Homo sapiens: one gene and its partners. The protein of the gene in region 6 purifies or fractionates together with the protein of the main gene of each other region. This does not show direct contact. Each region holds a gene or a part of one and is shown on either strand. Other genes may lie near its edges. The genes, in order: DZIP3, PHLDB3, GOLGA5, ACOT7, VPS50, RABGAP1L and BMAL1.

Evidence for each region.
Region 1: the proteins of RABGAP1L (region 6) and DZIP3 purify together in Homo sapiens (affinity purification with mass spectrometry, with the first as the bait; one large-scale study listed by BioGRID). This does not show direct contact.
Region 2: the proteins of RABGAP1L (region 6) and PHLDB3 purify together in Homo sapiens (affinity purification with mass spectrometry, with the first as the bait; one large-scale study listed by BioGRID). This does not show direct contact.
Region 3: the proteins of RABGAP1L (region 6) and GOLGA5 purify together in Homo sapiens (affinity purification with mass spectrometry, with the first as the bait; one large-scale study listed by BioGRID). This does not show direct contact.
Region 4: the proteins of RABGAP1L (region 6) and ACOT7 purify together in Homo sapiens (affinity purification with mass spectrometry; one large-scale study listed by BioGRID and IntAct). This does not show direct contact.
Region 5: the proteins of RABGAP1L (region 6) and VPS50 purify together in Homo sapiens (affinity purification with mass spectrometry, with the first as the bait; one large-scale study listed by BioGRID). This does not show direct contact.
Region 7: the proteins of RABGAP1L (region 6) and BMAL1 purify together in Homo sapiens (affinity purification with mass spectrometry, with the first as the bait; one large-scale study listed by BioGRID). This does not show direct contact.

What each region holds. Positions count from the first base shown.
Region 1 is NC_000003.12:108,641,722-108,645,221, reverse strand, and holds part of DZIP3 (E3 ubiquitin-protein ligase DZIP3), read right to left. Parts: intron 2,785-3,500; coding exon 2,708-2,784; intron 1,059-2,707; coding exon 441-1,058; intron 1-440. UniProt on the Homo sapiens protein: E3 Ubiquitin ligase proteins mediate ubiquitination and subsequent proteasomal degradation of target proteins.
Region 2 is NC_000019.10:43,480,747-43,484,246, forward strand, and holds part of PHLDB3 (pleckstrin homology-like domain family B member 3), read right to left. Parts: intron 1-3,500.
Region 3 is NC_000014.9:92,811,305-92,814,804, reverse strand, and holds part of GOLGA5 (golgin subfamily A member 5), read right to left. Parts: intron 3,255-3,500; coding exon 3,051-3,254; intron 1-3,050. UniProt on the Homo sapiens protein: Involved in maintaining Golgi structure. Stimulates the formation of Golgi stacks and ribbons. Involved in intra-Golgi retrograde transport.
Region 4 is NC_000001.11:6,334,768-6,338,267, reverse strand, and holds part of ACOT7 (cytosolic acyl coenzyme A thioester hydrolase), read left to right. Parts: intron 1-3,500. UniProt on the Homo sapiens protein: Catalyzes the hydrolysis of acyl-CoAs into free fatty acids and coenzyme A (CoASH), regulating their respective intracellular levels.
Region 5 is NC_000007.14:93,354,366-93,357,865, forward strand, and holds part of VPS50 (syndetin), read left to right. Parts: intron 1-1,525; coding exon 1,526-1,715; intron 1,716-3,500.
Region 6 is NC_000001.11:174,218,520-174,222,019, reverse strand, and holds part of RABGAP1L (rab GTPase-activating protein 1-like), read right to left. Parts: intron 2,896-3,500; 5' UTR 2,863-2,895; coding exon 2,725-2,862; intron 1,049-2,724; coding exon 856-1,048; intron 1-855. UniProt on the Homo sapiens protein: GTP-hydrolysis activating protein (GAP) for small GTPase RAB22A, converting active RAB22A-GTP to the inactive form RAB22A-GDP. Plays a role in endocytosis and intracellular protein transport.
Region 7 is NC_000011.10:13,364,790-13,368,289, reverse strand, and holds part of BMAL1 (basic helix-loop-helix ARNT-like protein 1), read right to left. Parts: intron 2,791-3,500; coding exon 2,698-2,790; intron 1,626-2,697; coding exon 1,508-1,625; intron 1,225-1,507; coding exon of another isoform or gene 1,112-1,224; intron 1-1,111. UniProt on the Homo sapiens protein: Transcriptional activator which forms a core component of the circadian clock.

The DNA of each region.
Region 1 (3,500 bases), on a different chromosome or scaffold from region 6:
TCTTTCTGAAAAATGCAGACTCCTTAATGTGACAAAAAAATCCTCTTGAATGTACTCTATGAACTCTCCCCTACTTTAATCTCAATGAAGCCAACATTTTTTAGTTGCCTGCAGTATATTTTTATGTTTCTATACCTTTATTTTTGTTTCCCTCTGAAACATTCTTCTCAGTCTGCTTCACCTGGCTAACTTCTGCACACCATTAATAGTTCTTTAACTATGATACTCTCCAGAAAGCTTTTTTGGACTTCTTTAGCCTAGGATTTCCCATGGTATTCTGGAAACATCTCTAGCACTATAATTTCTATTACCTTCCTGATGAGTCCATTTTCCCAAAACCATGAGCTCACTGAATCTCTTGCCCTTTGCACTGTGCCTGGCACAGAGCAGACATTCAATCAATGGAAGTTTATTGGCTGAAGTAAATAATCATTTAGTACCTTGTTGATAGCAGGATAACATCCTCTGTATGATTTCTGGTACTGGTATGCCTAGGTAGACAGATAGCTGATGGTAATCAAGGGAGATATTCTCAATGGGATTCTCCTTCACTTTGTCAATATCCTCTTGCATCATCCCAAGGCGCAGAAGAATATCTGAAACTTTTTTCCAAATTGAATTGAACTGTGACTCAGTGAGACCATTCATCAAAATCTCACTAAGGAGGATATCCCTGTATTTGCACAGTCTCAGGATGTCTGCAGATTTAGAGATGTCAGAAGATGGCGGTTCCATATTCCATCCTTTTTTGGGTGCAGGGAACACATTTAAATGTTTTATAAGAGCTAACAGGAGGCATAAGTCAAACTGTTTGGATTGCGGTAACTCCTTGTTAGGAGGATAAAGCAGATGCCATGATCCACCCAAAGGATGATTGGTCCAAAGATGGTTGTAGTAGGATTCCAGCACATTCTTGTGTATAAGAAGCTCTTTTTTCAAAAGAGGAGGTGGCATAGCCTCATCAAATATTTGTCGAACAATGTCAGTACCAGAAATAATAATTATATGAAGCAGATGATAGAAATAATTATAATCAAGCTTGAAGATAGGCATTTCATCTGAAAATAAATTTTGAGAAGTCAAGACATTCCACATTAATGCTCATTTTCTATTTGGTCTCTCACATTGTATCCTAAGCTCCTGTAGGATAAAAACTATTCCAAAAGAATGAAGGATAGTACAGTGCTTTGCCACAGCCAGTGCTCAATTAGCATGCTGCTTTCTGCCTGTCAAAAAACCTAAACAAAAACAACATGTTCCCAAGCAAAAGTAATAACAAAGACTAATCACCACAGAAGTCTTTCAGTCATCCAAGGTTTTGTTCAAGTAAATGACCTTTAGCAACAACATGGCATCACAGTATTAGGTCTTTAAAAATTCTGAAATTTGCCAAGAATGCTAATTGTCAATGTCTAACTATACTTTACTTAAACAATTATACTTTATCCTAATCAGCACTGCCCAATGGAACGTCATGTGATAAAATGTTTTATATTTGCACTAATACTCACTGAGCATTGGAAATGCGGTTTGGGTGACTAAGGAACTGAATTTTAAATTTAATTTTAATTAATTTAAATTTAAGTAGCCACATACAGCTAGGGACTGCTATACTAGATAGCTCAGATCTATATCAAGAAATGCCAAAAGATCTAGCTCCTTGCTACTCAAAGGGTAGCCCAGAGACCAGCAGCATCAAGCATCCACCTGAAAGCCTGTTAGGAAAGCACAGTCTCAGGCCCCACTCTAGACCTACTGAAATCTGCCTTTTAACAAAATTGCCGGATATTTCAAATATATGTATAATGCTTGAGAAACTGTGATCTAATAAACCTCATCTTCTCACCCCCTCAAAAAAAGATAAGTAGGTATTTCATCAATAACATGGAATAAGGCATGAAACTGAACTATTTGGTATTTTCCTGTTTTAACAGTGCTTTCAAAGGAGAAAAGTCGGCTGAAGTGAATTAGAAAGTACTAATAATTTAGTATATAATGGCATTTGGTGTTATATGGATATCAAAATATGTGTTTGTCACAAAATGCAGCCTTATTATTTTATCCTTCAAGATTCTATGTTTCAAGAGATTTATTAAATTAACGTTTTTGCTTGAAATACTTGATATACATTGTGGAGGCAAGTTAAAAAGCTAATGACACAGGGAGCTTTCTTTGGGTTACCAAATAAAAAGTTGGCTGGACTGCCACCAAACTATTCTTCTATGGGCCCAGGGTCCCTTAATTAAGGCCTCCAGGTTCTGGGCAGGACATTTCCTAGCACACTCCTAAGAAGCTGGCAGCTTAGTTTAGATTACTTAGCCTCAAAACTTGGCCTCAAACTCAAAATGTTCATTCCTTTCATGTAAGGGTACTCTAATGCTTGCTCTATTAAGAAGGAATGCAGCAAGGGAAGGAACAGTTGGTAGAAAACCTCTGCTGGAACACAATCCCACGGTATAGTCACAGCTATGCACCAGACCTAGCATGCCTCTCTATAGGATGTCAAGGTAATGTGAGATCCATAGATGTGCTGATCTTCCTGTCTGTGATTTCCAGCCTACACCAAGCGCTGCTTGCTGGTATAAACCCAAGCTCAGTGAATGACAAACACAGTAAAGACGTGGTTGTTAATGGCATGAAAGTTGACAGAGAAGTCAAAAATTTTAACATACTTTTCAACAGAAGGCATATAAAAATAAAATAATACCTTTTGTATTAAATTTTAAACTGATCTTCGGTCTTATATCAGTATCAGTTATTTTCAGAGATATCAACTTTCTATAACTGCAAAAGGAAAAAAATTAAGTTATAGTGGAAATAAAATAATACCAAAGTCAGTCAAGATTTCTAGTATGAGCATGGCTAAGTGAGTATTTTCATCTTCTCCTAGAAATAATTCAAGAAGGAGAAAAAATAATGAACAAATAGAGCTCACCAACAATGAAAACCCTACACTGTCACTTTCATTGGAATTATCAAGTAAGCAGTATTGCCAGATTTCATACTAAAACTATCACATTACAAACTTCCTTGCAAAAAGGCTGTGTGGTAGCAGAAAAAAAAGGAAAGAAAGCTTTGCATTGTAAGACAAAAAAAGCAAGCAAGCAAACAAAAAAATAGCAAATCTGGAAGTCCTCCCTGGCCCTCTCTTCACCATATAATATTTTTGGCAATAACTATTCCAAGAAACCCCAACTCATTTAACACCTACTGATTAAAAACAATAAAGATGCTAGTAGAACATCAATACAAATAATTAGAAAAATAAAAAATAAAGTAGCAAAATGTATTAACTAGACTAAGCACTAGGTAAATGCTGCCGTTAAACAGATGGCTTGGCTTTGAAATGAACCACGGAAAACAAAACAAAAAAATATTGGACAACAACGCTACAATGTAAGCTTAATGAGGAAAGGGATTTTGGTGGTGGTTGTTATTGTTAACTGATTCTATCTCCAGTACCACTATAACACTGTTAGTTGCACATTACATTGAAAAAA
Region 2 (3,500 bases), on a different chromosome or scaffold from region 6:
GGAAACCAAGACTCAGAGAGGTTAAGTCACTCGGCACAAGTCACACAGCCAGAGCTGACAGAGCCAGGACTCACCAGGTAGAGTGGTCACCTCAGATGGTCATACAGGTTGGGGAGGAGGATTTAAGGCAATACAAGTGTCCACTATTTATGAGAGCCTGACCATGAGCTGGTCTGATCCAACCTATTCTTCCCAAATAATCCCTGCAAACAGTGGTATGATTCCGGAGGTCAAACTGAGGTTCAGGGTAGTACATCTCAGATTTCTTCATGCAAGCAGATCCGCTGGGGATTTTGTTAAAATGTTAAAATGCAGACTCTGATTCAGTCATTTCAGGGTGGAGTCTGGAGTAGGGGGAGAGGTTCTGCATGTCTGACAAGCTCCCAGGTGGGCCCTGATGCTGCTGTTCCACCAGCCACACTTTGAGTGTCAAGGAGTTAGAAAACTGAAGCAGGATGGGTGCGGTGGCTCACACGTGTAATCCCAGCACTTTGGGAGGCCAAGAGGGGAGGATCACTTAAACCCAGGAGTTTGAGACCAGCCTGGGGCAACATGGCGAAACCCCGTCTCTACAAAAAATACAAAAATTAGGCTGGGCGTGGTGGCTCACGCCTACAATCCCAGCACTTTGGGAAGCCAAGGTGGGGGGATCACCTGAGGTTGGGAGTTTGAGACCAGCCTGACCAACATGGAGAAACCCTGTCTCTGCTGAAAATACAAAATTAGCCAGGCGTGGTGGCGCATGCCTGTAATCCCAGCTACTCAGGAGGCTGAGGCAGGAGAATCGCTTGAACTCGGGAGGTGGAGGTTGCGGTGAATCAAGATGGCACCATTGCACTCCAGCCTTGGCAACAAGAGCGAAACTCCATCTCAAAAAAAAAATACAAAAATACAAACATTAGCCAGGCATGGTGGTGTGTGCCTAGGATCCCGGCTAATTAGGAGGCTGAGGTGGGAGGATCGCTTGAGCCCAGGAGGTGGGGGTTGCAGTGAGCCGAGATCACACCACGGCACTCCAGGCTGGGTGACAAAGGGAGACCATGTCTCAAAAAAAAAAAAAGAAAGAAAAGAAAGAAAACTGAAGCAAGGCCAGAGCAAGAAGGGATGAGAAACAGAGATGAGATCTGCTGGTTGGAGACAGGAGAGTGAGGTGGGGAAATGAGAAGGATTAGGGAGGAGGGAAAGGAAGGGAGGGAAAGGCCAGGTTTAAAGAGTACCCGCTGGGCCTGCAATCTCCCCAAATCCACACAGAAAGACCAAGGATCACCACTGTGTGTGGAAGCTCCCGCTCTGTGTCAGGCACTATGCCAAGTGGTCACTGTGATTACCTCGTTTCTTCTCCAAAAGAACCCATTAATGTTCCTGCTAGACAGATCAAGAAACTGAGGCTTTAAGAAGAGGTGACTCTCCAAGGTCACCAAACTAGGATGTAGGGGAGCTGGGCCCCAATCTAGGAGGAGACCAGGGATGGGCTTGGGACTCCACCACTGCCCGGCTGTGTCACCTCCACAGAACTCCTGCCCCTCTGGGAGCCTCAGTTCCCTATGCTAAAACACCAGGGTTATCACAGCACTCTCCTCTGGGGCTGTTTCAAGGATGAGCTGGCTGCCCTCAGGGTCTCTCACCTAGAGGTTCCTCTTCTAGGTGTGAAGCCCAGGGACACACTTGCTCACGTGCACAAAAGATAGCAGGGGTGTACGGCAGGGGACAAAGCACACAGCAGGGGACTGTTTAATAAATGATGATGCTAGAAGCCAGGCAGAACACCAGAGCAGGAGCAATTCTGTTTGTTTGTTTGTTTGTTTGTTTTGAGACAGAGTCTCGCTCTGTCACCCAGGCTGGAGAGCAGTGGTGTGATCTTGGCTCATTGCAACCTCTGCTTCCCAGTTCAAGCGATTCTCCTGCCTCAGCCTCTCGGGTAGCTGTGACTATAGGCACATGCCACCACGCCCAGATGATTTTTGTATTTTCAGTAGAGACGGGGTTTCTCCATGTTGGTCAGGCTGGTCTCGAACTCCTGACCTCAGGTGATCTGCCCACCTCAGCCTCCCAAAATGCTGGGATTACAGGCGTGAGCCACCACGCCTGGCCTGTGCTTCGTTTTTAATGAGCACAAGCTTATGCCTAACAATGCAGAAGACCCCACTGCCGTTCCTGCCTTATTTTGCTCCCTGGCTCTTATCAGCCTCTGACATGCTATTTATTTTACATATTGATGTTGCTTTGTGTCCATCTTCCCCCTTAAAACATCAGCTTCCCCCAAAGGTGGGGATTGTTATCTTGGTCACTGCTATGACCCAGGGTCTAGCACACAGTAGGCACTCAATAAATATGGGCTGAAATGAATAAGGGAAGGACAAATGGTGGTAAAAACAAAAAGGTTGGGAAGGATGTGCTTATTTATGAGACAAATTCACAAAATATGGCTTGACTGGTGCATGTGGAAAAGTATAAACACAGATTTGAAGGCTTCTCAGCAGTAGAAGTGAGATCAGGAAGAAAGTGACCACTTTCTTAATACTTTATCTATCATTCTTTTTTTTTTTTGAGGCAGGGTCTCACTCTGTCACTGAAGCTGGAGTGCAGTGGGGCGATTATAGCTCACTGCAGCCTCCACCCACTGGGCTCAAGCAATCCTCCCACCTTAGCCTTTTCCCGAGTAGCTGGGACCAAAGGCATGCACCACCACACCTGCTAATTTTTTAAATTTCTGTAGAGATGAGGGTCTGACTATGTTGCCCAGGCTGTTCTCCAGCTCCGGGACTCAAGTGATCCTCCCACCTCGGCCTCTCAAAGTGCTGAGATTATAGGCGTGAGCTATGGTGCCTAGCTTTATCATTCTTTATAACAAAACGCATTGATTCTATGAATGTTATTAGTATAGGCAAAAATGTAATTTATGTAAGGGAGTTGTCAGCTAAATCAAGAATGTGAAAAAGTCAACAGGATAAATTATTTGATTATTTCCACAAATAAATAGCATTTTCTTTAATGGGGAGGCAGAACTGTTAGAGATTAAAAGATTTAAGAGACATTAAACCAAATGCATAGCGTGTGCTTTGCATATAGATTCAAATAAATCAACTGTGAAAAGATATTTTAGGTCAGGCATGATGGTTCAGGCCTATAATCTCAGCACTTTGGCCAGAAGGGAGGCTCGAGGCCAGGAATTCAATACCAGCCTGGCCAACATAGTGTCTCTACTGTTAAAAATGGAAAACAAGGCCAGGCACGGTAGCTCATGCCTGTAATGCCAGCACTTTGGGAGGCCAAAGCGGGTGGATCACCTGAGGTCAGGAGTTCAAAACCAGCCTGGCCAACATGGTGAAACCCCGTCTCTACTATAAATACAAAATTAGCCAGGCATGGTGGTGGGCGCCTGTAATCCTAGCTACTCCAGAGGCTGAGGCGGGAGAATCGCTTGAACCCTGGAGGCGGAGATTGCAGTGAGCCGAGATTGTAATACTGCACTCCAGCTTGGGCAACAAAGTGAGACTCCA
Region 3 (3,500 bases), on a different chromosome or scaffold from region 6:
TGACATGCAAAGACCAGTTTATAAAGTCCTAATTCTAGACTAGGAACAACAAGGACCAGCAGCTTTCACGTTAAATTAAAATATTTTAAAGTCATTCTCCTCCATCAAAAATAATTTTTCCTTTTCTGGGTGGTAGGATTATGGGTTATTTCCATTTCCTTCTTCAAACTTCTTTTGTATTCTTCAAATTTTCTATAATAAACATGATCATTTATAACATTTTAAGATTTTTTTTAATAAAAAACCAGAAACCTCCCAACCTCATTCCCCCATCTAGCTACTGTCCTCATGTCCATGGTCAAGTACCCTGCCTCCATGTCTTCAGCTCCCAGCGCACCCCGGAACTCTCTGTTGAGAGGTCCCCAGGGACCTCCTAGTTGCCAAGTCCAGGAATTTAGCTCGGGACTTGTCACATCAGAGCCGCGTGCTGTGGTTGGTGATCATGCACCACTTGAAACTCTCCCTCTGCTTGGCTTCATTGGATGGCATCAGTCTCCTCCTGGTTCTCTCCAATCTCTGACCACTCACCTTCTCAGTATTTTTCTTTTGCAGGCTATCCTTTTGCCCAATTTGTAAATGCTGATGTTTAAGACTGTGTTTTTAGACCTCAGCCTTTCTCCCCGTTAGGTTACACATCGCTCTTGCCTAAACTTACCTACTCTCCCAACTTACTTCTAATTACCTTTCTAACATTGTCACCTCAATGTTGCATCAATTTTGCATACTTACCATAATTCGTCATACTCTCCTTTAACCCTAACCTGTTCTCTTTCCTGTTTCCCCTTTTATTAACACAAGGAAACATCATTCATACACTTAAACCAAAAACCTGGAGTCATCCTGGATTCCATTTGCCTTTTTCCCCCATCCTTCCAGTTAAATCTCCACATGTCATATATTCTATCTCCCACATATCTCTTAGCTGTCCCCTGCCTGCCATCCTCACTGCCAAAAACTTTGATCAGGTCCTCATTATTTCTTATGATCACCTCTTCACCATCTACATGCCATTGATGCCACCCCTTATCACTTCCATGTTTTCAACAATGTACCGAATACCAGGCACTGTGCTGGGGATACAACGATGAACAAGACAGAGGCCCAAATCTCCCCTAACCTTTTCATCAGGCTGCCACAGTTCTCACACTCAAACCTGACCATGGCTTCTGCCTGCCGTTGAACTTTATGAGTCTTTTGCCTCCCATCTCTGAAGACGTTATGTTCCAGCAGTATGGAACTAGCTGCAGTCCCTTAAATATGCCATGTTCTCTCTGGCCCCCTTGCTCTGGCACAGGTTGTTCTCTCGGAAATCTCTTCCCTATCATGAGTCTTCCTATTCATCTTTCAAGTTTCTCTTTATACCACATCTCCTCAGTCCAGTGATCTTTGACAGCCTCAGGCAAGTTTTAAGGGATTCTTCTCTCAAGCTCCCATTGTACTGCATTAATAACCTTATTACGTCAATTATCTGTTTCTTTCCACTAAGATGAATGTTTTCTTAAAGGAAGAGGACACATCTTTTGAGCTTTGTATCCTCTGTGCCTAGTGAGTAGTTAGGTGCTCAATAAGTAACTTTTCAATGAATTAACAAATTAGGGTGATACAAAAAAGTACTTAGAAAGAAGAGTTTGAGGAGGAGATCAATATGATACTTCATGGAAGTAGCATTAAAAAAAGGTATTCATAGCCATTAGAAGTTTGAGACTAAAGAAAAAAGGTAAAGTCAAAAATGACCCTGAGGTTTCAAGCTTTACTGCCACATGGCAGTAACGTTGACCAGAACAGAAGAATGAGGGAGAAGTTGGTCTGGGAGCTGAACACTCCATGCCTGCACAGTAGGCAGCTGGGCACTGAGGTCAGGAGGTCAGGCTTGGAAACATGCTTGAAGTCATATGCAGGCGGCTATTAGAAGCAGAGGCAGCATACAGCAGTGCAAGGTAAGAAAGGACAATGAAAGAGGGTTCAGGACAGAGCTTAGGAGGACTCTGACTCTTTGGAGATTGGGAAGAGCGCCCAAGAGAGACAGAAACAGCAGTAGAAGAGGACAAAAAGAGAGCCAAGGAGATGTGAATAGCATAGAAGGCAGGAGTTCCAAGGAAGTGGGAGGGTTAACAGAGCCAAATGTTCTACCAAAATACAAGGTATGGAGACTAAGAAAAGGACAGAGAATATTTATTTAGGTCATCAAATATTTTTGAGAAGAAATTTCAGACATGTAGTAGGAAAAGAAGGAGATAAGAGTTAACAAGTTCTACAGAAATGAAGACAGCACGTACACAATTCTGGTAAGCATGACACTGAAAGAAAGGAAGATAGGGAAATAGTGCAAAGTGGTCACAAAGCTAAAAGAGACTGTTTTTCTCTTAGGCAGGAGTCCGAGATCTAGTCTTCATTTTTCCACTAAATAACCATGTGCTCTTGAGTAAGCTGAGCCAGAAGGCAGCAGCAGCAGAGAGGCACACACAGGAAGGAAGGGCATAGATCTATGGAGAAAGGGCTTACACATGAGATGGGAGATGGAATCAATGCACAGGCAGGAAAATGATCCTAGAAAAAAATGAAAGGACATGTTTTCCCTCTGAGGGACAAAGGAAAGAGAATTCAAAAACGACATTAGATGACTGTAGTCTTTCTTAGTAAAGTAGAGGGTAAGATCACCTTAGATCTGAAGGAGGGGAAAAAAAGCTGGGTGAGACAATTCTGAGAACTGGATGAGTCCTAAAGCAGTTGCTGCAAAAATTCAATAGGAGATCAACAAGGAAGAATAAACAGCTGCTCAACAACAAGCATTAATATCATCACAGTGAGTAAGGTGACAGGTTGAAGACCTGAACTAGGCAGTGGCAGAATGAATTTTTTTTTTAAAAGAAGTGGTAGGAACAAGAAACACTGCATCCTTTAATAAAATTTCTAAAGTAGAGTAAGGCACCTAAAGCTAGCCAATCAGACGAACATGAACAAAGCACCTCACACAGTATCTACACAGTCTCAAATTGCCTTTCAGTTAACTTGCACATCTTAACATCCAAAAGTGTACATTTCATGCTTACTTGCAGTATTCTAGTAGCTTTTTGCTTGTAGTCAATTAATTCCTGCTTAGAGGACTCCAAGTTCAACTTATACAGCTTGACTTGCTGCTGCAGTTCATCAACCCTCTTCTTCTCATCTGAGTATTTTCTTTCGGCCAGTGTAATTGCTTCTGCTAAATTCTGACGTTCCATTTCCACTTTATTAAGGCGTGCAGCAAACTCGCTCTGTGACAAATTTTTATATCATAATTAATGATATCATTTAGCTTTGAAACATATTTTACAACCATCCATTCGGATATCTTATGGGATTTATTAGCTCAGCCAAACAACATAGTAGGGATGGGAAAAAATTCTTAATTTGTTAGGAGCTAAAGTATAGGAAATGTAAAGTTGTAACTCCCAAACATGGCAATGCATTAAAATCAACCAGGAAGTTTGTTAAAAATATAGCCATCCAAGGCCTTTCCC
Region 4 (3,500 bases), about 170 Mb from region 6:
GACTGTGCTGGGGGTGGAGCCTTGGCCCCTTCCTGGAGAGGAGGGATGGCCTGCCGCGCTCTCCTGCTTCCTAGGACCTTCCTGCTTGTGAGGGCCCAGTCAGCAGTGCCCTTTGTCATTGCAGGAGTTGGTGGCTTCAAAAATGCCAGGAAGGGATCTGCTTTGCAGATTTTCTGCCATGAAAGCCCCCTTTGTGGTCCATCAGAGGCCATAGCCTCAGAGGAAGCCCTGAAGAGCAGGTTTCTTTTTTTTTTTTTTTTTTTTTTTGAGATGGTGTCTCACTCTGTTGCCCAGTCTGGAGTGCAGTGGTGTGATCTTGGCTCATCGCAACCTCTGCCTCCCAGGTTCGAGCTATTCTCCTGCCTCCCAGGTTCAAGCTATTCTCCTGCTTCAGCCTCCTGAGTAGCTGGGATTACAGGCATGAGCCACCATACCTGGCTAATTTTTGTATTTTTAGTAAAGACAGGGTTTCGCCATGATGGCCAGGGTGGTCTGAAACTCCTGACCTCAGGTGATCCAGCTGCCTCGGCCTCCCAAAGTGCTGGGATTACAGGCATGAGCCACCGAGCCCAGCCGAGCAGTTTGGGATGATGGGGAGAGAGGCAGGGAGACAGAAAGGCGTTCTCAGGCTTTCAGCATGGCTGGGACCCGCTGTCCCCACAGCAGAGAGTGATGCAGGCCAAAGGTCAGGGGTACTGAGCTTGAGGAACTCCCTAGATCCTGAACTTCCCTTTCCTGGCCGCTTCTGCTGGCCCATAATAGATATGGAACCGATAGTGGATGAGCAAATGAATGAATGAATAAGTGAATGAGCAGAGGCGACCAGGAAGAACTGGGCATCAGTGCTGAGACATGCTGGCTGATGGGGTTTTGATGAGGACGACACAATCTGACATATTCGTGAGGATCCCTCGCTCTTTAGGGGCTGAGAGGGGGAGAGGCTCCTGTGCAGAGCCAAGGCAGGCGTGAGCATGAGAGAGCAGCCCCCACCAGCTCACCCAGAAGGTGCTGGGAGCTTCTCGGCCTCCCAGCTGTGTCCTGGCCACCACAGCCCTCGGCCTTCTCCTCCTCCTCCGAAGGATGGGCTCAGAGAGGGACAGAGATGCCCACCCCTCCTCCCTGGGGACATCAGGGCTGGCATTGCGCTGTCGTGCGCGTGAGGCTTGGAGAAGGCAGGATACGCTTGCCAGCACATGAAGGCTTTTCCCAGTGGGGCTGGGCGGTGCCCCAGGTTCTTCTTCCCAGCTTCAGCCTTTTCCCTGTAGCAGGGGCTGGGCAGGGAGGCCTTGGAGCCCCAAGGCTGTAGCTTTTCTCCATATCTTGGTCAGGCCCCGGAGCCCGCTGTTGTCTCACTCTGTGACTGCGAGTCTCATCTCCCCCTCTGTCTCGCTCATCTCCTCGTCTGTGCTTCTGCTTCTCTGCCATCTCTCTCTGCAGTCTCTATTGTTCTCTTGAGGCCCTTCTCTGTCTCTGCCCATGTGTCCCCTGGAAATTGAACTCGAAGGCCCCAACAGCAAGAACAGTGCCTGGCACACTGTGGGCACACGGGGAGCACTGGCTGAATGGGTGGTGACCTCTGAAAGATAGGGGTATTGCAGGTGGGGGCAGAGGATGCGCGCGGGGACCCTGGCCCGGAGCAGGCTGAGTCATAAGCTGTGTGCGTGACATCTGTGTGCTGTCTCCACCCCAGGAGACAGGGGTCCCCTGTTCTGTGTGTCCCCTTTACCTGGGCTGTGCTGCCTGTCACGAGGCCGCTGAGCGAGCACAGGCCCAGGCAGACGACCCGCAAACCTTGCCTTTGAGGCAGCTCATTTATCTCCAGCAACTGTCAAAATATTAAGCTAACTGGGATGTGATTGCTGTGAATTGCTCCAGAAAAATAGCTGGGAGCTCTTAAGATTTTAAGAGATTTTTTTTTTTTTTTTTTTTTTTTTGAGACCGAGTCTTGCTCTGTCGTGCAGGCTAGAGTGCAGTGGCGCAATCTCGGCTCACTACAACCTCCGCCTCTCAGGTTCAAGTGATTCTCCTGCCTCAGCCTCCCGAGTAGCTGGGATTACAGGCACGTGTCACCATGCCTGGCTAATTTTTTTGTATTTTTAGTAGAGACCTGTTAGCCAGCATGGTCTCGATTCTGAGCTCGTGATCCGCCTGCCTCGGCCTGCCAGAGTGCTGGGATTACAGGCGTAAGCCACCGCAGCTGGCCGAGAGATAATTTTCTAATACTGCCGTTGTCTTTTGATGCTTTCATTAAATGATGGAGAAAATACAATTAGCATGTTTGCCTCATTTGCTCCATGGTGTTCATTTAGGTCCAGAGGGCCACTCGAGTTGTCATGGAAACCGGCTTGTCAGGCTGGCTCTAGCTGAATCCAACAGGAAATCTTTATTCCCAAAAGCAGGTTGTCAGATTCACTCTCAGTCAAAGTGCGGTGGAAATATTTTCCCATATTATTTGCCTGTGGTTCCCAAGCACTGGGAGCCCCACGTTCCCAAGGTGTGTTCTGTGCGGGGAGGAGGGGCAGGCACAGGCCTTTTCTTAATGGGCCCCCTGGGGCTTGATTTGGAGCCTGGGGCTGTGTTTATTGAGGAGGAAAAGCGCTTTGCCTTGGGGAGGCAGGTTCAGGTAACTGGTGGGAAGTGAGCTCCTCTGGGGGTTTTGGGCAGGGCCCTGGGGCTGCTCCTGTCTCCCTTTCCTCCATTACTTCCTGCAGTTTGCTCTTCTGCTTTATAGTGAGGATCTTCCACATTGAAGAAGCCACTTTTATTTATTTTTTTAAGACAGGGCCTCGCTCTGTCGCCCAGGCTGGAGTGCAGTGGTGCAATCTAGGCTCACTGTAATCTCTGCCTTCCGGGCTCAAGCGATCCTCCTATCTCAGCCTTTGGGACCACATGTGTGCACCGCCATGCCCAGCTAATTTTTTTTTTTTTTTTTTTTTTTTTGAGGCAGAGTTTTGCTCTCGTTGCCCAGCCTAGAGTGCAATGGCGCCATCTCGGCTCACCGCAACCTCTGCCTCCTGGGTTCAAGCTGTTCTCCTGCCTCAGCCTCCCGAGTAGCTGGGATTACAGGCACCACCACGCCCGGCTAATTTTTGTATTTTTAGTAGAGACGGGGTTTCTCCATGTTGGTCAGGCTGGCCTCAAACTCCTGACCTCAGGTGATCCGCCTGCCTCGGCCTCCCAAAGTGCTGGGATTACAGGTGTGAGCCACCGTGCCCAGCCAACCCAGCTAATTTTTTGTATTTTTGGTAGAGACGGGGTTTCGCCATGTTACCCAGGCTGGTCTGGAACTCCTGAGCTCAAGTGATCCACCCACCTCAGCCTCCCAGAGTGCTGGGATTACAGGTGTGAGCCACCGTGCCTGACAAAGCCACTTTTTAAAGGCATCCTTGCAGATACTTCTCTGAAATGACTGGGACATGGGAGTATGGCACCAAGTTGCTGTGTGACCCTGGGTAAACCCCTAGACGTCTCTGGGCCTCAGACTCCTTCTGTACAAGTGA
Region 5 (3,500 bases), on a different chromosome or scaffold from region 6:
TCACTGCAGCCTCTCCCTCCTGGGCTCAAGCAATTCTTGTGCCTCAGCCTCCTGAGCAGCTGAAACTACAGGTGTGTGCCACCATGCCCACTAATTTTTTGTATTTTTAGTAGAGATGGGGTTTCACCATGTTGGCCAAGCTGTTCTTGATCTCCTGGCCTCAAGTTGATCCGCCCACCTAAGCCTCCCAAAGTACTGGGATTACAGGCGTGAGCCACCATGCCTGGTTATACTCCTGATTTCTGGTGGTAAAATCAGCCCTCGTAACCCTTATATCATCATTAATAATAATCACCATCATATCACTGTAAACTCTATAAATCTTTCATGTGTTGAAGTTATGGATCTATTAATAGTAATTTTCCCACTTACTCAGAGACCATGCTTACTCTGCCCATAACATCTAGGATACAAATAAGGATCAGTAATACATCTGAAATATCCCTGAGAAGCGAACAGCTATTTCAAAGACCCTGTACAGTGCTCTAGAATTGCACATCAGTTGAATATTCACACTATCATTTGTCTGATTTTTCTTTTGTTCTCATTTGTTATACAAAATAATGTATTAGAAAGTGGGAAGATGACAGTGACAAGCTGACAACAGTCGTGGCACTCTGTATTGAAACCAGCAGTGCTATAAATTATAAAAAGGCTGTGTCAGCAATCACGAATGAAGAGTATTTTAAATAAATTTGTTTAAGTCGAAATGTGAATAATATATGTAATACTTCTGTATAAAATACTCTTTTTTAAAAAAAAAAAAAAAAGCTTGGTCATTTTAAATAAAATAAGCTTTTATTTTCTTGCAACTTTCCTTAAGGTAAGTACCTCATTCCCACAGTTGAATTTTCCATGTTCTGTATGATTGATTGAAGAAATGAAACATTGACTTAATGAGCAATAAAGTGTTGTATTGTTAGGGTTTGTATATTTGTCTTTATTACTTAGTCCACCTTAAAACACACTGTTTCAGTAGTGTAGAATATCAGAATAGGTCTATAAGCTTTTTATCATGAAAAATATATATATACTTTCTATGCTTACATGCTTACACATTTCTTTATGTTTTCAGAGTGTTCATGGGAGAATTATTTCATTTGTTTCTTTTGCATTGCATTGAATATTGAACAGTTTTATAAAACTAAGATTACTTTGAAGTATTCAAAGCTTAGTTTTTATAAAGTAACTCTTGGCAGCCAGATTAACTGGAATACCAGTTTAACTTTCTTACAGACAATTATGTTGATTGAATACAGAGATCCGTGGTCTGTAGAACAACAAAGAGACTTGAACTCATTGGATCTCTTTGCAAATGAGAAAACTGAGGCCCGCATAGGTAAAATGACAGAGCACAAACACAACCCAGTCTTTCTGACTCAAGGCTTATGTTCTCTATTTCCTATAACCCTCTCATTTCTGGGGAATCTGTCCAAATATAGGTTAGAGAAAACTTCAAATACCTGACAGTTTTTTGTTTCTAATTATCCTATAATGTATTTTTTTTTATTGTTTTGCATCTTAGATATGCCAATGTCAAGAAATGCAGTAATGAGGGTCGTGCCCTGATGCAATTGGATTTTCAACAGTTTTTAATGAAACTTGAAAAACTAACAGATATTAGACCCATTCCTGATAAAGAATTTGTAGAAACTTATATTAAAGCTTATTACCTAACTGAGAATGACATGGAACGGTGGATCAAAGAGCACAGGGTGAGAGCTGGAAAATAGTTAATTAAGTTTTTATTCCTTTTTCTTTGTGCTGTTCTTGTTGGGTGTGTTATTTAATTCAAAATCATGAGAGTGAAATATAAAGAAACATTTGCTTTTTTAATACAAACTACTTAGGTCAATTCTTTGCCTTATTCAGATTAAGGGCACCGTATCTAAGCAGTGCCCTTTGACTCATCAAATCTTTTTCAGCCCTTTGTGAACTGTTACTGTAATGATCTAGAAATACAGCCAAAGCCAAGACATTAGCTATATTTTTCCTGCAACTGTGTTATAGGAAAAGGCTGAAGTTGATAAATACTGAGACAGATTGAATACAGAAACAATGAAATGATTCATAAGCCATAATCGATTATGTAACTTAAACCTTCTCATACAAACCTTCTCGTACTCCTCAACGATGAAATGGTAACATCCTACACACTGACACGTATTAGTGATGAGTGAAGACATTAATATTTAAATGGCTAAACTTAACTTACATCTTACATTAGATTTTACCTTTAATATAGATTTGATTATTTTTCTTTTGTATGACTATATAGATAACGAAAAATACTATTGTTACGTAGGATGCCGAATTTTTGACACAGTTCAACTCAGTGAGCTTGGTATGGGAAGCTTTTCTGTATATGGCATGTGTTAAAATTATCACCAAATCCTCATTGCTTTGATAACTCTAGGATTTACATTTTCTTAACCTATGAATGTCATGGGTAAAAGCTAAGTCAAGTTTTATTTCATTTGGGTAAGAAAATAATTATTTGTATATACCTGCTCAGACTCATCCTTTCTGGCCTTAACACTGTAAAGAGATAAAATGCATTAGCCTAGAACATTCACATTGGCGTGAATCTTGTGTGAATGTCCCCACTCTTACTCAGTTTCGGATCTTTAGAAGCAAAGTAGGAATGTATGTGTTATTTTTAATGAGTTCGACCAGTAAAGCCAGATTGAGAAAAACTTCACCACGTTTAGCCCCACTGACATTTGATAACCAAAATGTTAAACCTAGATGCAGATAGACTGCTTAATGTTGCTAGAATCCATTTAGTAAAGTAAGCTGTAAACACTTCTGGGTTGGTACTGAGGAAAGGGTTTTGGGAAAGAATACAAAGTAGCCAAGGAGGAAAGGCACAGCTCTATTCGATGCAAGAATGATGCCCGTTTTTTGAATTTCCTCTTTTAATATAGTAGACTGATTTTTTTTTAACTTAGTACTTTGAAAGAGCTTTAACTGATTGATATTTGTAATTCAGTGACATTTCCCCAGCAGCAGCAGGGACTCTTTTCTGTCTTTGAAGGAAACTTCCCACAATGATGAGTCCAGCGATCACTGACGATGGATCCTCACTGAATGCTGAGTGGTTAAATGAGATTACTTACCAGGCGGGGACAGGTGCTCTCAGAGATCAGATACACAAGCTGAGCAGTTTGCCAAGTTTTTAAAATCAATTCTTTCTCCTATTTTGAAATTGTACTATATTTAGTGGTTACCTTCAATAAAGACACATTTTCTTTTCTTATTAGATAATAGTACACAGCTGTCTTTCCCTATCTGAACTCTTGCTATTCAACCTCCAGTACCAAGTCAATCTGCAGAAATTTCTGATGAATCCCTGTTTATTCTCATCCTAGCAATTCAGTATCTAAAATTCAGGAACCAGATGGATTTGGATTGCGAAAGATACTCGTAGTCTTAATTTTATTTGCAGCTCCCTGACTTTGTGATCCTTGTTACCTTATTCATTTGTTGTATCTTAGAAG
Region 6 (3,500 bases):
CATCACTACAAAAAAAAAAAAAAAATTAGCTAGGCATGGTGGTACACACCCAGCTACTCAGAAGGCTGAACAGCATCACTGCACTTCAGCCTGGATGACAGAATGAGATCGTGTCACCAAAGAAATTTTAAAAATCAGTAAAAGAATGAAGACTTTCTCTTTGCCACCAGGCACAAACAGGTCACCTTCCCTTACCTACCAGTTTCTGCTGGTAGCTACTTTGTAACCAGCTAAGGAGAAAGGTAACATAGACAAGATCAGAGCTGAGTAGTTACCAAAAAAACACCATCAGAGCCTAGATCAAATTATACCTGTGGTGTTTAAGCCAGCTGAAGTTGGAGCTGGTTTTGGTTTTATTTATTTTTGCACCCAAAAGCATCTTGACTTATAAGCTAGTATTCAAAGTACAAATCCTAATTATTCATAGATGTATTTATTATTTAATACACTGTTGGAATTGATATGTTTTACTTAGAGTTTTTACTAAATATAACTTTAAATAAGTGTAGTGAAACTGAGCAAAAAGGCACATCACATGAAAGACTATCTCCATTACACTATTCTGTGACACCCAAGTATTTACTCATTTGTTCAGTAAGTATCTGTTGAGGACCTACCATGCATGAAGTACTAGGGGTAAAATGAGGACCCAGACATAGTCTTTGTTCCCAAAGAACATTAAGACCTGATTTTTATAGGCAGAGATATAGGCAGAAACATAACACCGAAGTGGAAACTCTCAACAAGAACTGAAAGCTTGAGAAGAGCTAACAATTTTTTCTGATTTTCATCTTAAAATTTTCACTATTACTTTATCCCATTTCTTTAATAGTTTCTAAGAATTCAATACAGTACCTGTGTTAGACGGATCCAAAATTAACTGAAGAGATGGCTTATTTGTTTGGCTGGCTGGAATATCTCCAAACGAATGGTCTGAAATCTCACTGGAACTTTGACAATCAACAAGAAGACTGCTTGGCCTTTTCTCGGAATCTCTCAAAATCTCTTCCATGGCTTTTTCCAATTGTTCATCACCATTAGAAACTATCTACAGACACAGCAAGACAATTCTGTTTCAATTCTACCATAGTTCTGAAGCTAAATTTTATGAAAGTATTTCATTTCTAGAAGAAATTAAAACAATCTAAATATTTAAATATAGTTACTAAAATACTAAGAAGTTGTTTCACATATATAATACATTAAAATCCTGGTTATAAAACTAAATTAGAGGAAGATTATTAGTTTCACAAAAGGATTCTTTATAAAACACTTAAGACAGTTTCCAACTACATTTTATATAAGATCCTATTTACAGAGATGTATTTATCTTTTTTTCCCCTTTCTTTTTAAAGACAGAGTCTCACTCTGTCACCCAGGCTGGAATGCAGCGGTGCAATCTCAGCTTATTGCAAACTTCGCCTCCTGGGTTCAAGCGATTCTCATGCCTCAGCCTCTCAAGTAGATGGGACTACAGGCGTGCACGACCACACCCAGCTAATTTTTGTATTTTTTGTAGAGACGGGATTTCCCCACATTGGCCAGGCTGGTCTTGAGCTCCTTACCTCAAGCAATCTGCCCACCTTGGCCTCCCAAAGTGCTGGGAGTACAGGCTATGAGCCACCACGCCTGGCCCTTCTTTTTCTTTTTCTTTTTTAGGAACACACCCTAAAAATCAGATAACCTTAAATTTACATGTCTAAAGGAAAAAATAGGTAAATTTAAATCGGGTCTATTATGAATATCATTTAAAAGGTTATATTTCTTGTTAGCACAGCATAACCATATTTCTGATTTCTTTACAAATTGTTGGCTAGCTCCCAAGATGAATATTGCTAATTTCCTTACACTTAAGTTGACTCATAGTTTTCTCAAAGGCAGGTGAAACACAAAGCCTAAGCAAATAAGTGATGTCTTAAACACAATAATGCTAAAATACAGGTATCTAAAAATAAAGCCACTGATTATTTAAATAAAATTATAAAACAATATATTCTCAACATAAACATTTAGTAATCTCATTTTCAGAATATATTTTATTAGACTGATATATTAATACACTTTTGATGCCATAGTTAATACTAAATAAAAGTCATAAGTAATATATAGCACTTTTAACTACTTTTCCTATTCCTGTTTCTAGAAGACAGTTATACCATTTTCAAGCCTATATAACTGAGTTTACTTGCTTCCTTTTCTTTGACTTAGAAAGTGCAACACAGAAGTGAAAAAGGGACCATATCTAAATAAAAACTCAAATGCTAAAAATATAAGATATGCTTTAAAAACATTTAGACAAGTCGACTGTTAAATCACACAACGGAACGTTACCAGCTGATTTAAAACATAAAAATCATAAAGAAAAAAGTCTCTCAAGTGAAAGCAAAACATTTAATTAACTTCTAAAACCCAGCAGTAAGAGAAACAAAAACATCCAGATAAAGTAATGTAAAATTTAACCATTATGTCTAATTCACCAAAAAATCCTTTCTCTTCTTTTTCTTCTTTTATTCTTCCCCCTAAAATTCCAAATCAAAAGGTAAACAACCAAAAGCAAGAACTTTTTAAAATACACAAACCAAATAATTAGGGTCTGGATAAATCAAACATTGATTTTATTTTGAAAGTCAGCACTTGAGAAAAACCTTTGCATTTTACACATCTCCTAAGTTTCAAATAGTTTTTAATTAAAAATTATACCATATGTAGAAAAGAAAAAAATACCTTCAGTTGAGGTTTTTCTTCATGTTTTGTAGAATTATCATCTGCATACTGAGGAACCAAAACAAATTCTTCACTGTTCATTGTAGCCACAGAATCAGATGATCCACTAACCTTCTGTAATGAAGCTCTGACCTCCATTTCAGTTCTGCAAACTTCTCTTCCCACAACCACCTGGAAAAACAAAAGGGATTAAAAAAAAAAACCTACTGATTAAAAACATGAACTAATTAAAAACATGAACTAATAAAGCTTTAAAAATGGTTTATGTGAAGAAGAATCCTGCTGGCTAGATAATTATCTCAAAGTTAGGGAGGCTACCTTCTTGGACTGAGCCACTTAATGGAAATGTACTCTCTCTTCATCCTAAGTTTCCAGACTAATAGAGCCATATTGTTACCTAAAAATTTACACAAACCAGTCCATATCTCAACCAGATTTATCACTGTTTACCTGACACACTCACTCTCATTTCTCTTAGAAATACTGTTTTCTTTTTAATAGAGGAAATAATTAAATGATACTAGAAATACCTACAAATGCACACACAGACACAAAACCATATTCACTGACACTGCTATATTAATTAAATCTAAATGCTTCAAAAAAAAACTTATCTCCTCAAGACCGAATATTGTACCTGCAAATATTTTTTCTGAGTAACTAAAGTTGACTAATACAGAATTCAACATCCTAAGACATATAGCTTCTCTTTCCTGACACATTATCACTTATTAACACCAAAAAGAAAAAGAAAAAAGCTTCTATATTGCCTTCAC
Region 7 (3,500 bases), on a different chromosome or scaffold from region 6:
CTCAGTGATGCCTGTCCTTGCGCCCACATGAGAATTAATCATCCGTTCTCTATGCCTGGCACTATTTCTATGGCTGTACCTATTACTATGCAGGGTGCTGTCTGTCTCATTTCTCTGACTATATGCTAAGAGCCTCAAAGGCAAGGCCCAAATGCCATTCATATTTTTCTCCTAAGGTCACTTAAAAAAGCCAAGGCTAGACTATAAAGAACAACAGATACCAAAGTCTGCATTTTACTTTTAGGAACAAGCGGTGTGCTGTAATGAAAGAGATGACTTGAAGGAGATTATCTGGTGGTATTTTTTTCCAGGGATTAACGTGGACAGCTTGGGAGCAAGACATTAGGCCACACTGATACTGTTCTTACTATGTGCTAGGAACTGTTCTGCCTGCTTTATATACATTAACACTTTCAATCCTCACAACAACCCAAAGAAATAGGTACTCTTCCATAAATGAGAAAACTGAGACAGAGAGAGGTTAAGTAACTTGCTCAAGGTCACACAGCTAGTGAATGGTGGAGCCGGAATGAGCCCAGTAATCTCCCTTGTGTTCTCATTCTTTTTTTTTTTTTTTTTTTTTCTGAGACAGAGTCTTGCTCTGTTACCCAGGCTGGAGTGCAGTCAGTGGTACAATCTCAGCTTACTGCAACCCCCACCTCCTGGATTCAAGAAACTCTCCTGCCTCAGCCTCCCAAGTAGCTTGGATTACAGGCACGCACCACCACACCTGTCTAATTTTTGTATTATTAGTAGAGACGGGGTTTTGCCATGTTGGCCAGGTTGGTTGCAAACCCCTGACCTCAAGAGATCCACCTGCCTCAGCCTCCCGAAGTGCTGGGATTACAGATGTGAGCCACTGCGCCCAGCCAGAGTCCTCATTCTCTCATTCTTAACTGTAGGAGTGTACAGCCTCCCACAGGACTAAAGTAGATGACAGCTACTGGGGCCTTGCACAGAAGTGTGTGCAGTAGCAGGAAGCTGGGGGCAGAGGGAGCGATGTGGATGGTGGTTCCACTACTGCAAAAGAAGAAAGCCAGGTGGGGGAGCCAACCTAAGGAGGAACACTTTGGTTGAAGAAACACCATATTTATAGTTGACGTTTTCTTACTTTTATGAGGCTGCCTGTGTGCAATTCAGGTAAATAGAGCCCATTTGTTCTGGGAGAACAAATCAAACTTAGCCCTTTAAACTCAGGAGCATACAACTGGGATTTTCTAGATTCTGAAAGAAAAAAGAAAAGTCTAAAAATCAGAAAGAATCCAGTCTAAATAGCTCTTCTTTTCAATAAATTTGGACATTGAGATTTTTTTCTTCTTTTTATGTAAAAGACCAAAGAACATAAATAATTCCATTTAGCCAAAGATAGCTCTGGTGCCCCAGAAAGAGGACAGAGAAGTAGGACTGGAAAGGCTGAGCCCATCACACACACCCGCCCTCTGCTCACTCAGGGTTGGCTGCCTGTGAGTGGGCTGCTGAGGAAATGCGAGGCCTCTCTGGTACTCACTTTTTGCATCTATGAGCCGCTCCCGGGGTGCGGTGTCAGAGGAGGAGAGCTGCTCCTTGACTTTGGCAATATCTTTAGGATGCAGGTAGTCAAACAAACTCTGACCAATCAGATCATTCTGGGGAGATGAAATGTTAAACATGACAAGTCAATTGCATGCAGAAAATCAATTATGCAACAAGTAAGCATGCACAGTCTGCATGTTGCCTTTGTGTTTTTGTGCATGAGACCTCAAACTTTTCCTATGTGAACCTGTACATATGTCCAACCACTTTGCCTGACACCAGGAAGGAGGCATCTGGAGGTTGGTTTTGATAACATGACGGGAAAACCCTCAATTATATAAACAGTTTATGCTCTTCTAAGGCAACAATCTTGGAATTCCCCTGTAAGACCTCAGAAGGCAGAAGATAGGGGTGGGCTCTGATTCCAGCTCTGCTGTTCAGCCTCTCTGTTCTCAAGCAAGTCACGCATATCATATGCTTCAGTCACCTTGTCTATTAACAGAGATAACAGCAACTTCCTCCATAACTTTGCTCTGAGACTAAAAAGAGCAGAAATCTTTGGAAAAATTAAATTTACATTAATTCTAATTTACATAAATGTCATTTTGATTCTTCAAGTCTTCTGCCTACCAAGCTTCCATGCAAATACCAGTGTGTGAGTGAATGAATAAATGAATAAAAACTCTGGGGGACATAATAGGTGAAAAGTTCTGTTCTAGAAGCGTTTATAAATGTTACTCTTATTTGATCCTATAAGTTATCATTAATTTTTAGAGTAAACTGAGGTTCAATAGAGCTAAGAAGTGACACAGCACTGCAAACACAGTATGGAGTGGATTTCCAAGTGACGTATTCTCTGGTATTGTGTTAACCTGCCTACCTTTCTCCCTTGTCAGATAGCCTCTTACCCTCTGTCCTTGCCACATATTGTGGGATATTTATTTTGCAGCAATAGAAGAAAGCCATAATGCTATCGATCAGATCAGAGTCAGATCTTTCAATGGGGGGAATACGGAACATATTACAAGATTGTTCTAAGTCTAAATTAATTTATCTGTTAAGAAGTTAAGAATTTTCTGGAAGAAGTTCACATGTGACTTGTATACTATAATTATTCTGACAAAATTGAGTGACACTTCTGACTGCTGTGAGGCTGCCCACCATCAACAGGAGCATGAACAATACCTGGCTGTAGTTGAGGATCTTGAAGACAGACTCTGAGACAAAGAGTATCTTCCCTCGGTCACATCCTACGACAAACAAAAATCCATCTGCTGCCTAATCAGGAGAAATGGATAATCAATTTCTCATACTGTAGGAAACATAATTTGTAATCACCCTGATAACAAATAGAGGATGTGCTTTCTAAGCATCCAAAGCACAGGAACACTAACAGTTTCAGTGATATCCTGAGTGCAGGATGCTGAAAACAAACGTCTCTGAAGAACTGTAAGATTGTGTGTGTGTGTGTGTGTGTGTGTGTGTGTGTGTGTGTTTCTGCATATCATCTAATTATTATAGGAAGAAAGTCCAATTAAAGTAAGTTATATTTCAAAGCAGAATTCAGCTTGCACGTGTTCTTTTGAAGGTATCATGGTCCAGAGAATCATATTTCATTGCTCTAATAATAACAACTCTATGGAGAGTCAGAGAATCTGAGATTTGGAAGGACTCTTCAAGAATCCCCTCTCCAACATCTCAGCCATCATCTGCCTTCAACTTGAAAACCTCCACGTACAGGGAGCTCTCTAAAACAGTGGTTCTCAACATTCGGAGCAGTGTTTTTTGTTTTTGTTTTTATGCTGATGGTCTGGCATGGGGCTGATCACTGGGGTATTTTTAAACCCATCCCACTTCCACGTTAATGTGATTCTAATGTACATAGGGCTGAGAACTACTACTCTCAAATGTTATCCCTCCATCCAGGGCCGGACTATTTGCATTCAGAAAAGCAAAACTCCCCGCTTAGATTCTTCTTACCCCTTCTT